Regions from separate parts of the Homo sapiens genome. Here region 2 is linked to region 1. A link means that fine-mapping ties the variant in region 1 to the expression of a gene that starts in the linked region. Tissue or cell type: spleen. Region 1 holds a variant in brackets; the other region holds the start of a gene. All regions are shown on one strand. Distances are between the middles of the regions.

Region 1 (8,000 bases):
GGTGGACCACCTGAGGTCAAGAGTTTGAGACCTGCCTGGCCAACATGGTGAAACCCCATCTCTACTGAAAAAAAAAAAAAAAAAAAATTGCCTGGCGTGGTGGTGCATGCCTGTAATCCCAGCTACTCAGGAGGCTGAGGCAGCAGAATCACTTGAACCTGGGAGGCAAAGGCTTCAGTGAGCCGAGATCATGCCACTGCACTCCAGGCTGGGTGACAGAATGAGACCCTGTTGAAAGAAAGAAAAGAGACAAAAGAGAGAAAAGAGAGACAGAGAGTGAGAGAGCAAAAGCTCTATTTGTATCACTATTTTATAGATGAGGAAACTAAGGCTCAGAGAAGTGAAGGAGTTTTCTAAAGGTCACACAGTAAGTGGTGATAGAACCAGGAAACAGCAAGGCAGTGAGATTCCAGAACTCCCTCACTTAACTGTGGTGTGTGTATTCATTTCCTAAGGCTGCAGAAGACTCGGGGGCTTAAAACAACAGAAATGTATTCTCTCACAGTTCTGAAGGCCAGAAACCTAAAATCAAGGTGTCGGGAGTCTCACACTCTAAGGCTCTAGGGGAGATTCCTTCCTTGCCTCTTCCAGTTTCTGGCGGCTTTCCTAGCTTGTAGCTCAACAACTACCACCTCTATCTCTCTTTATATGGGCTTCTCCTCTGTGTCTGTGTCTTCTCCTCTTCTGTGTCTTATAAGGACATTTGTCATTGAATTTAGGGCCCACCCAAATAATTCAAGATGATCTCATCATGACATCTTTAAGTTAATTACATCTGCAAAGACCCTTTATCCAAATAAGGTCACATTTATGGTTCCAAGGGTTAAGACATGGACCTATCTTTTGAAGGATCACCATGCTACCCAGTGCAGTGTGTATAGAGTGCACAGTTTAATGAGTGTTAATTGTTTAATCAAAGTTAGCTGTCACTATGCACCTGACACTATGTGCTAGGAAGACGAAATTACTAAAGCATAGCCCTGGCCCACAATGAGCCTACTCTACAGCAAGAGAGACAGATGTGTTAACAAGACAGGTTACAATAAAAGCACGAAGAGGGCACAGGTGACGCACAAGAAAAGAAATGCCAAATTCTGTGAAGGTGGGAGTCAGGAAAGTGTGCACAGAAGAAACGCCATGAATTCTCCTATAAAGTGGACAAGGGGTGGGCAAGGAAGAGGACATTCTAAGAAGAGGAGGTGGCAAAGACAAAAGCACAGAGATGTAAAACAGGCAGAACCATTCGGGGAGCTGTAAATAATTTAGTGTGGCTTGACATTGCTGCTCAAGGGCAGGGAGGTTAAGAGAAATCCTGGAGAGGTGGCCTGGGACCAGATTAAAGAGGACGCTTCATTCTAAGCTGAAGGAAGCCAGGGCGGTTTTAAGCAAAAAAGTAATAATAGATCTGAGTTTCCAAAGAATCATAGGTAAGCTTCCATGTGGCAGCACAGACAAGAGAGAATGAGTGCCAGCCCTTGGGTCACTGCAGCGTGTATGGAGTTGAGGGGACAAATTGGAGCTACCTACGAAGGTGGAACTATCAAGGTCCCGTTACTGTCGGAGGGGAAGGGAGGGCTCTAAGTTGATTTCCAGACTGAGAAATAACTCCCTTTTTAGAACTCTTGGTTTCTATAATGCTTCTCCTTCCTTGCTCTTCTTGTTCTTTTCTTATCTCTCTGATAATTTTGTCTCAGATCCTTTATCATCTGCACCTTGCACCTCCCCTGGCCATCCCTCAAATGGTGGTGCACCCAGGGTTCTGCCCTTGACCCACTTCTCTCCCCTTTCCACTGTTCACTCTGAGCCATCTCATCCACTCTCATGGTTTCAGCTATCCTGTCCCCGCAAATAAGGCTTATAGCTACATGTCCAGCCCAAATCATTCACTCTACCTCCAGGCCCAAATCCAAGTGCTTACTAGACATTTCCACCTATATGACCCACCCATGTTCTAAATTCTATACATTCTCATTGCTGCTGTCACCAAATCTGTGACAAATCTAATTACTCTTGTCATCATAATTTTTGTGACTAGCACTAAAAGGGTCAACAGTATTCAGTGCTGCAGAAGGTCAAGAACAACTTGAAAAGTCCATTGGATTTGGCACCTTGGAGAAGTGAGAGATGAGGAAGTGCAAAAGGCAATTTCAGACTACCCTTTAAGGAGCTGAACTGTGAAAAGAAGGAGACAAGGAGGGAGAATGAGCATCAAGGAAAGCTTTCATGTTTGTTTAATAAGATGAGAGTGATTTGAGCATATTTATGGGCCACAGTGATAGTTGATATTTTGGGTAAGACTATTCTTGACAGTGGGACACTAACACATATATTACAGGCCACTTAACATGCCGGTTCTCTAAGTTCTCAGTGCCTGTGGCGCACGCGTGCATACACACACACACACACACACACACACACTCTCACACACACCAGTTATTATGGCATCCAAAAATCACCCTCATACATTCCCAAACATCTTCTAAGAATCCCTAAAAGGGAAGATACCAGTAGAGAGGAATAAGTTGAAAGTTAAGAAAAAAAGAAAATAACTGATGAACCAAGATCCTAATTCTGGAGAAGACTAGACTAAAGACACAAAAGAGGGTTTGGCGTGAGACAAGGGAAATGCACCATGTTTGGGCTTTGATTCCTACAGGCATTGGTTGAATTCCCAGGATGTCACTTCCTTTGAGACACAGTGTACTACACTGTCTGTTGACTACACTGTCTGTTGACTAGCCCCAAAGCCATTCCCACTCCTTTCCCCCCTTGTCACCTCCACCAGAGAGACTTGCAACGTCCACAGAGTTGCCCATGTGACATTGTTTGGGCTCATGAAATCAAGGATGTGGGGAAGACTTCTTCTAATCCAATACCAACCCACTTCTTCTTCCTTCGTTAAGTATGAGCATGATGGATGACTAACGCTGGAGCAGCCACCTTCCAACCATGACAAAATGCCAGGCGAACCCCAGATGTCAGTACTGACATCACTGAGCCAGTGAACCACCCCCAGCAGCCTCTGTCTCTAGACTCTTTGTTCTGAGACACCCACAGACTCATTTGTTTAAGCTACGGTGAGCAAATCACTACCTAAAGGTATTGGACAACATAGTTAACCTCTCTGATCTATAGTTTCCTTGTCTCTAAAATAAAGATAAAATATGTGCCTTCTAAATTCAATGAAAACATTAAATGAGATAAAATATATAAGATGACTAGCTCATATAAAGTGACTAACTCAGAGTTTGACAAAAAATAAATGATCAGTGTCAGTCTTTCTCATCATAACCTCAAAATAACTTACAATAATTAGATCTTCTTTGTCCGTGTAAAATAGAATTATAGCAATAAACCTTTATTGTACTCAGAAAGGTAGAATAAAAATAACCACCTTTAATGTTACTCTCCTGCATGCTAGACCTTTAAACTACAGAATCAAAATACAATTTTGAATAAAATGTAGATCTAACAGTAAGACAAAAAGAATCACAGAAGTCTCAGAAAGGGGACTAAAAATATACTCTTTGTATAGAACTCATAATTCAGGGAGTTTTTTTCAGCAATATCAATGTGATGTAAAAATTGGCTGGCAATATTTAGTAAATTTATGTTTTCTTGTATCTGTAACATTTTACTACTTCC[C/T]ACCTAGTACCACGAATATTTTCTTCATGTAATAATTCACTTTTTTTTAACATATTAACACTTCCAAATCTATGAGTGACTCTGATTCAAACACTATTTTATTCCGTTATGTTTTTAGAAAATGATCTTGACTTGTCTTTAATGCTTATATCCTATGTGTATCAGTTTGTTGAAATCACTTTATGTCTCTGCTTTGAAAATCCTGATAAGTTCTGATCAAGTCAATATCAGTAATTGCATCACCAAAGAGGTGGAACCTACTGAGCTGTTGTTTATCCACCATGTCTAAATGGAAGCAGGTTAACATCCCCAAATCTTCTATTTCTGTTAATAGGAAAAATTAGAATCCATTTTCCTCAAGTGATTTAGGACAAGTCTGGTTTTTGAGAATGCAAGATGGCATATACTAAGCACCAACTGTCTACCATGCACTGGGTACATTGCGTCATAAGGCTTGCTACCCTTTATAAGCTGGGTGTTATTTTTGTTTTCACTTTACAGAAGGAGATTTTGAGGCTCAGAGAGTCTGAAGAGTCCAACTAAGGTCACATGGCTGAGAATGAATAGAGCTCAAGCCCATTGACTCCAAAGTCTGCATTCTCTCCTTGTGCTGGTACCTTCTTTTAGACACCATCACGTCCCTGGAAAATGTATGACAAGTGATGGCTGGTGTGTTACTTTCCAGCACCAAGTGCCTGTATTTCTATGAATGTCGAAGCAATTTCTGGGCTTCAATTGTTACAAGCATTAACACTGCTCCTAAAGAAAATCCTAGCTCCAATTTTTAAAGACAGGATGTGCTGGCCAACAAGAAACACATTTCACAGAAGCAGGTGGAAAGAGCCAGCCAGACAGAGCTACATCACTACAAAGTTTCCAGTGCCTTAGAGAGCACTGCCTACCCATCTTTCCCCAAAATATAGTTCAAGTAGGGAAAATTGGAGAGAAGAAACTGAACTCCAGGTAATTTTGTCCTGGCTTTTTTTTCTTACTCCCTCATCGTATGCACTGGGAAAAAGTCTTAAAGTCAAGCATGTCTGAATTCAGATTTCAGTCCCACTATTGTTGTAGATGTGTGACTTTGGCCAACATACATAAACGCTCTCTGATTTAGTTTCCCCATCAAGAAAGAAGAAATACTACTACTTCCCTCATGGGATTGCATAAGAATTAAAATGCTCATTAACATCATGCCTGGTTCAAAATTGACATATTATGTTAGTTTTTTTCCTCTCACTTTTCCTACCTCTATGTCTTAATACCCTTCATCCAAGAAATGCCATAACATTACAGTTTTCTCCCAAAGTATTCTGTCCCGAGGAATATTATATCACAGACAACTAAAAGCAAGGTAACAATCTAACAGACACCAGAAATTAGTGAAGAAGCGTAGGGTAAGGCATGAGTAACATGTAGCCATCTTGGTTTCAAGATTATGTTGGATATGCAAATCCATATGAGCCAAGGGAAGGCAATAGTCTACTCCCAGTGTCACACACCACTGCCAGCCCATCTACTCTCTCCAAACCCACTGTCATTAAGCAAGTGGGGGTAGAGGATAGGGGAAGAGGGCCAGAGGATGAAGCCAAAGAAGAGTAGGGCCATCTTCCTATCCCCAATTAGATTCCAAAATGTGGCTCTCAGTACAGAAAATGAAAAGTGCTATTGAAAGCATCCATTCCCAAAGAAGCAATTTATTATTTATTTTATTTTATTTTTGAGACAGAGTCTCGCTCTGTCACTCAGGCTGGAGTGCAGTGGTGCAATCTCGGCTCACTGCAACCTCCATCTCCCAGGTTCAAGCAATTCTCCTACATCAACCTCCCAAGTAGCTGTGATTACAGGTGTGCGTCACCACGCCCAATTTTTGTATTTTTAATAGACACGGGGTTTCACCATGTTGGCCAGAATGGTCTCGAACTCCTTACTTAGGGTGATCTGCCTGCCTCCGCCTCCAAAGTGCTGGGATTACAGGCATGAGCCACCGTGCCTGGCCCCCAAAGAAGCAATTTAGAAAGGAAAGAATCATAGCAATAGACTCCACAGTAAGAATATTTTTGCATGTCATCTAAGGAAGAATAAGATCCAGAATGTGATGCACGTTTTAGCTACCATGCTACACCCTGATCAACATGTCTATTTCCAGATCCTGACCCTTTACTCAGCATACCCTTTTCTTCCCCATTCTTGGAGCATTAAAGTTGGATCTTGAATCCTTTTGCCTGCTCCTACTGTAACTTCTACCTTTCTATTTTCCTTCCTACCTTCTGCTCAAGCCATTTTCATTAGTCCTAATGCCAAGGACAAAACAGTTGTCATTGACTCTGTCATTCCCTATCACTACTCCTTATTTCCCTCACCTAAAGTGTCTGTTTGCCACGGTACTGCCCTAAAATCTTCCATATATTTTATTTCATTTTATCTTCAAAATGTAAGGTGTATAGGGCAGAACACAAAATTTATATCTCATAAACTATAAACTGAGTATCATGTAGTATAACTAATGTGTTTGTCCACATTTTCAAAGCTCATCAGAATGGAGACTAAAACTCAGGGATGTATAATTCTTAGTTCAGTGTCTTATGATGCAGAATTGTATAATAGAAAGCATAGGTTTCAAAACAGGTATTCCTGAGATTTGAATTCTAGTCCCATTGCTAATAGTGGGCTGTGATATCCTGGATTAGTTACTTAACCTTTCTAAGCTAAAATCTGAAAACCCAGGGAAGATTTCAGACAATCAGTAGAAAAACCTCCTAGAAATAAATGGAAATACATCTAGCTTCAGTTCATTATTTGGATTCAGATGGGCATCTTAAATCCAGGATCTCAGGGAGAATAAAAGCAATTATAACAAGGCAAAATAAAATAGGCTCTTTATACTCAGGTGGGGAACTGCCAAAAAGCACCTCATACATTTTTAAACATTCTCCATTACTATTCGAAACAGTCTCTGTTACAAGCACCTAGCAGTTCTTTCCAGGTTAGAGATTTTCTTTAAGGGACCCCGTGTGGCTGCAGCAGGCTTCCATACTACTTGTGAGCCTCAGCTTCCCTGGTGGGGTGAGACCAAGACTCCCACCTCACACTTCAGAGCCTTCCCCCAGATTTTCACCTTTCAACCATATGCCCTTCTTGGGTGGTCTCCAATTTAGAGTTTTTTCTACAATGGTCCATGCTGCTTTTCGATTCTCATTCTTTTCCTGCATCATGATACACTCTCACTCCCTTCAAACTGCTCCACATGGCCTTCAGCTTCACCTGCTGAATGTTAGGCTGGACACTTCAGTGAAGCACTTGCCATGTATCACCTCATTTAATCCTCGACAACCCTGTAATCAACATATTAGTATCCCCATTATACAGGCAAGGAAACAAACGTTGAGAGTCAGGGATTGGTGACTTGTCCTGATTCTAACATTTAGGAAGTGATGCCCGAATCCAGCTTGGACTCTAAATTCTGATTTTTTAATAGCCCTACTCAGCTAGCCCCCGTGCTTCTTTCCACCATAATATAAAGCTCATTTCCTCTTTGGGAAAGCAGAGTGCTAATTAATGTTCTTACTGATTAATTAGCATATGCAAAAAAGTGAGCACATGCTATTTGACGAGGTGCTGAACTGCTGAACTGTGTCTGTGCTGTTGTCAAAAGTCTTCAGAAGAATGCTGTCCTTCCAGCATCAAAAACTTCTTGAATACAAACTTTATCCCTGTAATGCAATCATCCACAAGAGCACTTAATAAGTGGGTTTTATTGGAAATAAACTAACAACAAAAACTTAAGTTAAAACAGACTGACAATTACCTGTCTCCGAGAAGGGGAGAACAAAATAGAAGGCTTATTGATCATCCTTCAGACGATTACTATGAGCCTTCAGTGTGGCCAAGCTACATGTCTTAGATTTACTGCATCAGTTCCACTTTCAAATGTTTTTTGTCCTATTCCCCTGTTGTTGATTAATAGTTGTCCAACTGTGTGTCCCCATTCTATGTTTGTAAAATATGGTCATGGTACTTAAAAATAAACTTCTATTAAAAAAACAAAACAAAACAAAAAAAAAACCTGGCCTTAGTTTTGAGGTGTTTTATCTTTGAAATTTGTCCCAAAGGCTTTTTTCTCTGAGATTTGGGGACTCTTTTTATTGGCCTTTATGCAAATCTGTTAAGCCCCCAAACATTCCTCTGCATGGCTGCTGGGAAGTTTGCTGCTGGCACTCTCTCTCCAGGTAGCTCCTGCCACCACCCATTCAGCATCGAACGCCTGGGGCTGAGCCTCCAACTTTCCAGGATCTCCATTACTGGATCTTTTTCTTTCTTCTTTTCCCTCTTGCTGCTTACCTTTTAGAAACTATTCT
Region 2 (8,146 bases), 930 kb before region 1:
TTAAAAGAAAACTAGAGTTTAGAAAGAAAAATGGCTGTTTATATATTCTGCATAATGGAGAGGTTTCCTTCCTTCCTTCCTTCCCTCCTTCCCTCCCTCCCTCCTTCCTTCCTTCCCTCCCTCCCTCCCTCCTTCTTTTCTTCTCTTTTCTTTTCTTTCTTGACGGAGTCTCGCTTTGTTGCCCAGGCTGGAGTGCAGTGGCGCGATCTGGGCTCACTGCAAGCTCCGCCTCCTGGGTTCACACCATTCTCCCGCCTCAGCCTCCCAAGTAGCTGGGACTACAGGCGCCTGCCACCACGCCCGGCTAACTTTTGGTACTTTTAGTACAGATGGGGTTTCACCGCATTAGCGAGCTTGGTCCCAATCTCCTGACCTTGTGATCCGCCCGCCTCGGCCTCCCAAAGTGCTGGGATTACAGGCATGAGCCACCGTGCCCGGCCTCTCTTCTCTTTCCTTTTCTTTCTCTCTTTCTCTCTTTCTTTCTCTCTTTCTCTCTTTCTTTCTCTCTCTTTCTCTCTTTCTCTTTCTTTCTTTTCTTTTCTTTCCTTCCTTCCTTCCTTCCTTCCTTCCTTCCTTCCTTCCTTTTCTTTCTTCCCTCCCTCCTTCCTTCCTTCCTTCCTTCCTTCCTTTCCTTCCTTCCTTCCTTCCTTCCTTCCTTCCTTCCTTCCTTCCTTCCTTCTTTCTTTTTCTTTCTTTCTTTCTTTCTTTCTTTCTTTCTTTCTTTCTTTCTTTCTTTCTTTCTTTCTTTCTTTCTTTCTTTCTTCTTTTTCTTTCTTTTCTTTCTTGTCTTGCCCTGTCACCCAGGCTGGGCAATCTACCTGCCCTAGGCTTCTGAGTAACTTGGACTACAGGTGTGCACCATCACACCTAGCTTTTTTTGATTTTTTATAGAGATGGCGGGGGTGGGGGGGCTCTCTCTATGTTGCCCAGGCTGGTCTTGAACTCCCAAGCTCAAGCAGTCCTTCTGCCTTGGCCTCCCAAAGTGCTGAGATTACAGGTGTCAGTCACCATGGCTGGCTGTGGAGAAGCTTTCATGCTCCCCAGACATCTTCTTCAGTAGTCTGTGAGAATCTCAGAAATTCCTGGTATGTGTGGGGTACCGGCTGGTGGCTGTGTGTACAGACACACCCACACATCCACCCACATCCATGTCCACTCCTGTATACACCAATTGGCCGTAAGCCTAAGGTATGGAGAGTCATTTCTACACGTGAGATGAAACCAGTGCCCTTGCCTCCTATCACCGTATGTGTATGTGCACACTGTCATGCCAAATAAAACACATTTCCATTCAAGGCAGTAGCAAAACAGGGTTGCCGATTGTGTGGCTGAAAAGCAGTGCATGTCACCAACTGTCCCTAACTCACGGTGAGTGATCCATCCCTGTGACCTTGATTTTCACGATCTTTCATTTTTATTTACCTTTTATCTTTTGTAGAGATGGGTTCTCACTATGTTGCCCAGGCTGATCTTGAACTCCTGGGATCGAGCAGTCATCCCTCCTCGGCCTCCCAAGTAGCTGGGACTACAAGCTGGCCCAGATATAAGCAGGCAGTTTTTAATTTTTTTTATTATTATTTTTTGAAACGAACTCTCTATTGCCCAGGCTGGAGTGCAGTGGCGCGATCTCAGCTCACTGCAACCTCCACCTCCCAGGTTCAAGAGATTCTCTTGCCTCAGCCTCCCGAGTAGCTGGGATTACAGCTACTTGGCTGTACACCATGCCCGGCTAATTTTGTATTTTTAGTAGAGACGGGGTTTCACTATGTTGGCCAGGCTGATCTCCAACTCTTGATCTGCTCACTTCAGCCTCCCAAAGTGCTGGGATTACAGGCGTGAGCCACCGTGCCCGGCTAGAGCAGGCAGTTTAATGCTGGGCTCCCATAGTGGTAAGTCTTCAGGGTACTGAAATTTCGAATTTAGATTTATTTGTTGGTTTGTGTGTTTTTCTCTATTATATAGGCTTTAGAAGGACAGAAATTTGTTCTGTTTTTCTCAGTATTCCCTGAGCCTAGGACAGTGCCTGTACACATGGGTAAAATGAATAAACTTTTTGGGAGAAGGGTATTTTTTTTTCTTTTGTCACAGGCTAATTAGAATGATGTCCTTTCACTCAGAGAACACAGCCCTCAGGTTCTTCTCTTGTCTATTCTGGTGTCTTGAATGCCAATTTGTCTTCAAATAATTTTGATGAATTTCAGCTGATCAACCATCAGATTTTTGTGTGTGTTTCCATATAAGAACACTTAAATCCAGTGTGATAAAAGCAACTTACAAGCCCGAGGCTTGGAAGAAAGGAAAGGAATTTTTTACTTCTTGGGCTGAATACATTTCATCACATCCCAATTTATTTCCCTGAGGCTTTTCTTTGTCAAGCTTGGGAAAGTGCTGTTTCCTAGGAGAACCACACAAGAACAAACTTTAAATATGAGAAAAGAGAAAAGCACACCCCAAAGCAAAACAAAACAAAAAAAACCCCCAAAAACAATAAGAGAAGCATTTTAGATGGATTTTCTCCAAAGATCGATTGCATTGTGTTCCAAACGCATTTCTTTTCTTTCTTTTTTAAATTTTTTTTGAGATGAAGTTTCACTCTGTTACGCAGGCTGAGGTGCAGTGGCATGATCTTGGCTGACTGCAACCTCCACCTCCTGGGTTCAAGTGATTCTCCCGCCTCAGCTTTTCAAGTAGCTTCAGGTGCCCACCACCATGCCTGGCTAATTTTGTATTTTTAGTAGAGATGGGGTTTCACCACGTTGGCTAGGCTGGTCTCAAACTCCTGACCTCAAGTGATCCACCCGCCTCAGCCTCCCAAAGTGCTGGGATTACAGGCGTGAGTCACTGTGCCCAGTGTAAAGTGCATTTCTTTTCTAAACTGACTTGAACCAAAATGGATGAACAAGGACCCTTCAGATGATATACACCAAACTGGAAACAGATGAGAATGCCAGCAAATGGGCTCAGGAGGAATTTATCTTCTTGAATTTTCAGGCATAAGCTGATTTTGACAATGTTTTCTCTTACAAAAACAGGGTGAGCGTGTTCTGGATGGAGGCTGGGTGGGAACCCCAGGTCAGAGCAGATGTGGAACTGGGGCATGGGGAAGACTATACCCCAAAGAGGTGGGGGTGGGGAAGAAGATGAAAAGTGAAAGACGAATGTTCCCAGGGGCAGGAATTCATAAACTTTTTCCATTGATTCTGCCCTCTCAAGCCAATCACTTTCTGCCTTTTTGGACCAAATTGGGAAAGCCTGGACAGTCTGCTACAAACCAGACCAGAGCCTTTCCTTGTCAACAGAGCAGCGCTTCCTAAACTTATACTGCGTTAAAAATCACATGGGAATTTGTTAAAAATGCAGTGTCTGGAGGCCTCCTAGAGGTTCTGATTTAGTTGGTCTGAGTCAGGGTCCAAGAATTTGTATCCAGAGCAAGTATCCCGGCGATTCTTCTGCTTGGACAGGGTTGGGACAAGGCGTCGGCCAGTCATCCACATTGTCTTTTTGCAGATCCACTAATCTTCCATGCAGGCTCCAACAGCTCCTTCCCGGCCTGGGAACCCAAATCCGCAGGAAGAATCTCGGGGTGTTGTCTTGGCTTATTCATTCAGAGCTGTCGTGTGTGGTTCTGCAAACAGTACTCAGATGCGTTCCCTCTCCCCGTAGGGATCTTGCTGGAGATGCCCAGGGTTAACAGTGGAACTCCATATGGAGACAGAGGCATGGGGGGAGCTTCGCTGGAGATGGGACAGCCTGCTCCACCGCGAAGCCTACTGAGGCTCTCTTCTTACGTACCCCGCGCAATCTCATCTCCCTGAACAACTTCCACCTCCACCTTTCAGCTCATTCCCTAATGTCTGCTTCTGTTGGAACTCCACAATCTCATCTTTATCTGCCTAGGTGTGTTACAGTAGGTAGCTGTCAGGTATGAGCAGGGCAGGAGAGGGTCTGTTCCAATAGCAGGAACCTCAGGTGACCATCAGGTGATGGTCAGGCGGCTGTTAGTCTGTCGCTCTAAAATAATAATTGGTCGCAGCCGGTGCTAGGGAAAGACAGGCTCCCAGTAGATAGAAAACACCTGAAACGGGTGATAAGCAGCTTCCCGGTAAGATCTTAGCAGTTGGGCGAGTGTACTCAAGCATGAGCACTAACAGGCAGAATGCCAGAGTTTAACTGGTATATGACCTTCTAGGGACATTCGACTGATAAGGGAAGAACGCCTCACGTGAGCATGTGTACAACTCCTGCATGCGTACAAACACACTGCGCATGCTCCCCTCCCAGGCGCTGGCAGGCCACACACTGCGCATGCTCCCCTCCCAGGTGCCGGCAGGCCACACACTGCGCATGCTCCCCTCCCAGGTGCTGGCAGGCCACACACTGCGCATGCTCCCCTCCCAGGTGCTGGCAGGCCACACACTGCGCATGCTCCCCTCCCAGGTGCTGGCAGGCCACTGCGCAAGTGTGGACAGCCTACACCAAGGGAAGAGTCAGGGGAGAAGGAACACAAGACTCCGGAAGCATGCCAGCGTATAAAACCGTAAGTCAAAGGTCAGACTGTCCAGTGGGTGATCTCTCAAGTCGCCCGCTTGGCCTCTTCCAAGTGTACTTTACTTCCTTTCATTCCTGCTCTAAAACTTTTTAATAAACTTTCATTCCTGCTCTAATACTTGCCTCAGTCACTCCTGCCTTACCACAATATTTTTTAAAACAAAATCAATACCAAAAAGCCCATGATAAACAACATATCAAAATTTTATAAAAGCAGGCTGTTTGGTTTGTTTTACGACCTTGCGTTACTGCAAGAGAGGAGCCGTTTCCAATCAGGCTTTGGATCCTGGGCTTATGTGGCTGCTGTGTCCCTGCCATGGATCTGTGAGGGTTGACAATGGGGTACAAACAAATTGGGCAATATATATATACACATATATGTGTATATACATATATACACATATATGTGTATATATACATATATACACACATACATGTGTATATATATACATATATACATATATACACACATACATGTGTATATATATACATATATACATATATACACATACACATATATGTGTATATATATAATATATACATATATACACATACACATATATGTGTATATATATAATATATACATATATACACATACACATATGTGTATATATATAATATATACATATATACACATATACACATATATGTGTATATATATAATATATACATATATACACATATACACATATATGTGTATATATAATATATACATATATACATATATGTATATGTGTGTATATACACACATATATGTATATATGTATATATGTACATACACACACACACACACACATATATATAGTTTGTTTGTATTTTGAGAGGGAAGAAAGATGAAAGAAAGGGAGGGCTTAAAAAATTTTTTTTGAGACAGCATCTTGCTCTGTTGCCCAGGCTAAAGTGCAGTGGCACCATCATGGCCCACTGTTGCCTCAACCTCTCAAGCCCCATCAATTCTCCCACCTCAGCCTCCCGAGTAGTTGGAACTATGGGTGTGTGCCACCATTCTTGGGTACTTTCTAAAAAATTTATTAAAATATTTGAGACAGGGTCTTGCTTTGTTGCCAGGCTGGAGTGCAGCGGTGCAATCACAGCTCACTGCAGTCTTAACCTCCTGGGCTCAAGCAATCCTCCTGCCTCAGCTGCCTGAGTAGCTGGGTTCACAGGTACGTGCCACCACGGCCAGCTAATTTTTTTGATTTTTAGTAGAGACGGTGCCTTGCTATGTTGCCCAGGCTGATCTCGAACTCCTGGATTCAAGCAATCCTTCCGTCTTAACGTCCTAAAGTGCTGGGATTTCAGGCATGAGCCACCATGCCCAGCCTCTTGGATATTTTTATTAGATTTTTTTTTTTTTTTGTAGAGATGGGGGTCTTGCTGTGTTGCCCAGGCTGGTCTTGAACTCCTGGGCTCAAATCATCCTGCCTTGGCCTCCAAAAGTGTTGGGATTACAAGTGTGAACCACTGTACCTGGCCTTTTTATTTTTGTTTTAAAAGAGAGAAGAAAGGGAGATGGGGGGAAGGAGGCTTTATATATATATATATATATATATATATATATAATTTCTTATTTTTATTTTTTTTAGATGGAGTCTTGCTCTGTTGCCCAGGCTTGAATGCAATGGTGCGATCTTGGCTCACTGCAACCTCTGCCTCCCAGGTTTAAGCGATTCTCCTGCCTCAGCCTCCCTAGTATCTGGGATTACAGGTGTATGCCACCACACCTGACTAATTTTTTTGTATTTTTAGTAGAGATGGGGTTTCACCACATTGACCCAGCTGGTCTCAAACTTCTGACCTCAAGTGATCCACCTGCCTCCGCCTCCCAAAGTGCTGGGATTATAGGCGTGAGCCATCGTGCCCGGCTGAGGCTTAATTTTTTGATTGGAGACTTTTAAATGACGTTTTTCCACTTGGTTCAAAGCATGGGAAGATATTTTGATAAGCGCATATAGGGACACACACGTTTCCTTCTGTCTCGGGCTCCAAGAGGGCCTAGCACAGCAGTGCTCACTGATGATCAGGCCTCTCCTTCCAGTGCTCTTCACACACAGACCATGTCTAGATTCCTCCTTTCGGGATGGAAGCCCTGTGGGGGCAGAGCCAACCTCTCCCGTTGCTTCTCTCTTTGTCTATCTCTGCTCCAGCATAAGGAGGGCTTGCAGCTGGCTGAATGAGCCTTGGTTTTCCTTGCAGCCTCACCTTCAGACAGACTTTTCTGACCTGCATACCTGGTCCAATGCTGTCAGTTGACTAGTTTGGGTTTTTTGTACTGCTCAAAGGCACCCAGCTGAGATGGTTGGGGTGGGGTTGGAATCCAGTCTCACTGCTGGCCAAGCCCTGGATGCTGGCCTGAGGTCACATCCTTTGGGGTGGGGGCACATTTTCAAATTCATCCACTCAGAGGGGGCACATGTTTCTAACTCACACACAGTCTCCCTGTGTGTGGCTGTTCTGAGTACCATTCCCAACATCATCTGCTCAGGGAATTTCTACCCCCCATCAACCTCGTGTAAGACAGAGCTTGAGCTTTTGACCTCCTCTGTGAAGTCTATTTTGCTCTCAGTCTCTTAGACAGAATTGCTTTTTGTCTAGGAGACAGAAGTTTCTAAGTGCTTACTCTTGAGTTCTATACTTACTTTGTGGCAGACTAGTGACAAACCATCAGCCGACCAGGCCCAGGTCTGGAGGCCACACTTCGAGGGCTCCACCTTAGACCAGCCCTCTGCTGCACACAGGGTGACCTTCTACATGTTTTTATGATGGAAGCAAGCTATCTCTGTGAATTGTAATTATGTGGACAAGCACGGAGCCACATGGCTGGCAGAGCAGTCTGGCATGCATCAGTCAAGAGCAGGGCAGTTCTTCTTTGATCTAAGAATGTCTTTGAAGAACACTAGAATAACAGATGGTAAAGTAAAATGTTCAGACAAGTAACTCCTTGCTTTACCTCAGGATACCAAACAACTGGTTCAGTGTCTATGTCAGTCAGGATGGGCTGGGTTAGCTGACATAACAAACAGCCCCAAGTCTCAGTGGCATAAAGCAACAAAGCTTTATTTCTTGCACACGCTGCATGTTCATCATGGAACCCAGATGAATGCAGCAGTTGCTATGTGGAATATTGCTTACCACCATGGGAGGAAGGAAAAAGCCCACAAGGGTCTTGCATCAACAATTAATTGCTTGGGACTTGGAAGTGACATCATTTCTGCTTTCAACTTGTAAGGCAGAATTAGTGTCATCATCCCCCACAACCTCAAAAGGTGCAAAAGTGCAAACTGGCAGTGTACCCAGAAGACAAGAGAGTTTGGAAATATTTGGAAAACAACAGTTATGACTACCACAGTGGCACGTTCCATAAAGTTGACAGATTTTCCTAATTTTCTAAATAACCACCCCTAGTAGTTGTTTTGGTGTCTAGAAAAATGAGTTGTCAACAGCAGGACACAGCAGTAACAACTGCAGTTAAAAACCGAAAGCACAGTCTTTTTTGAATATCATGCAGTGACATCTCTGCCAGTAGTAAAGATTCTCATGCGGTATGTGTCTGTTTTATGTTATAGAGGTGGCTCAGATTATGCTGTAAAAAGCAGCA

The links. PIP is the estimated chance that this variant, and not a neighbour inherited with it, causes the effect.
Region 2: GPRC5D-AS1 starts here. The variant in region 1 is fine-mapped to the expression of GPRC5D-AS1 in spleen (GTEx, PIP 0.97).

What each region holds. Positions count from the first base shown.
Region 1 is chr12:13,854,983-13,862,982 of GRCh38, forward strand. All of the region lies in intron 3 of GRIN2B (glutamate ionotropic receptor NMDA type subunit 2B), which reads right to left. Among named protein-coding and RNA genes, the nearest start is that of GRIN2B, 120 kb to the right of the region's middle. The variant C/T (reference allele first, on the strand shown) is at 3,646.
Region 2 is chr12:12,923,267-12,931,412 of GRCh38, forward strand. It overlaps GPRC5D-AS1 (GPRC5D and HEBP1 antisense RNA 1), which reads left to right and starts at 4,460. Exons shown (of 3, transcript NR_149067.1): 1 at 4,460-4,537.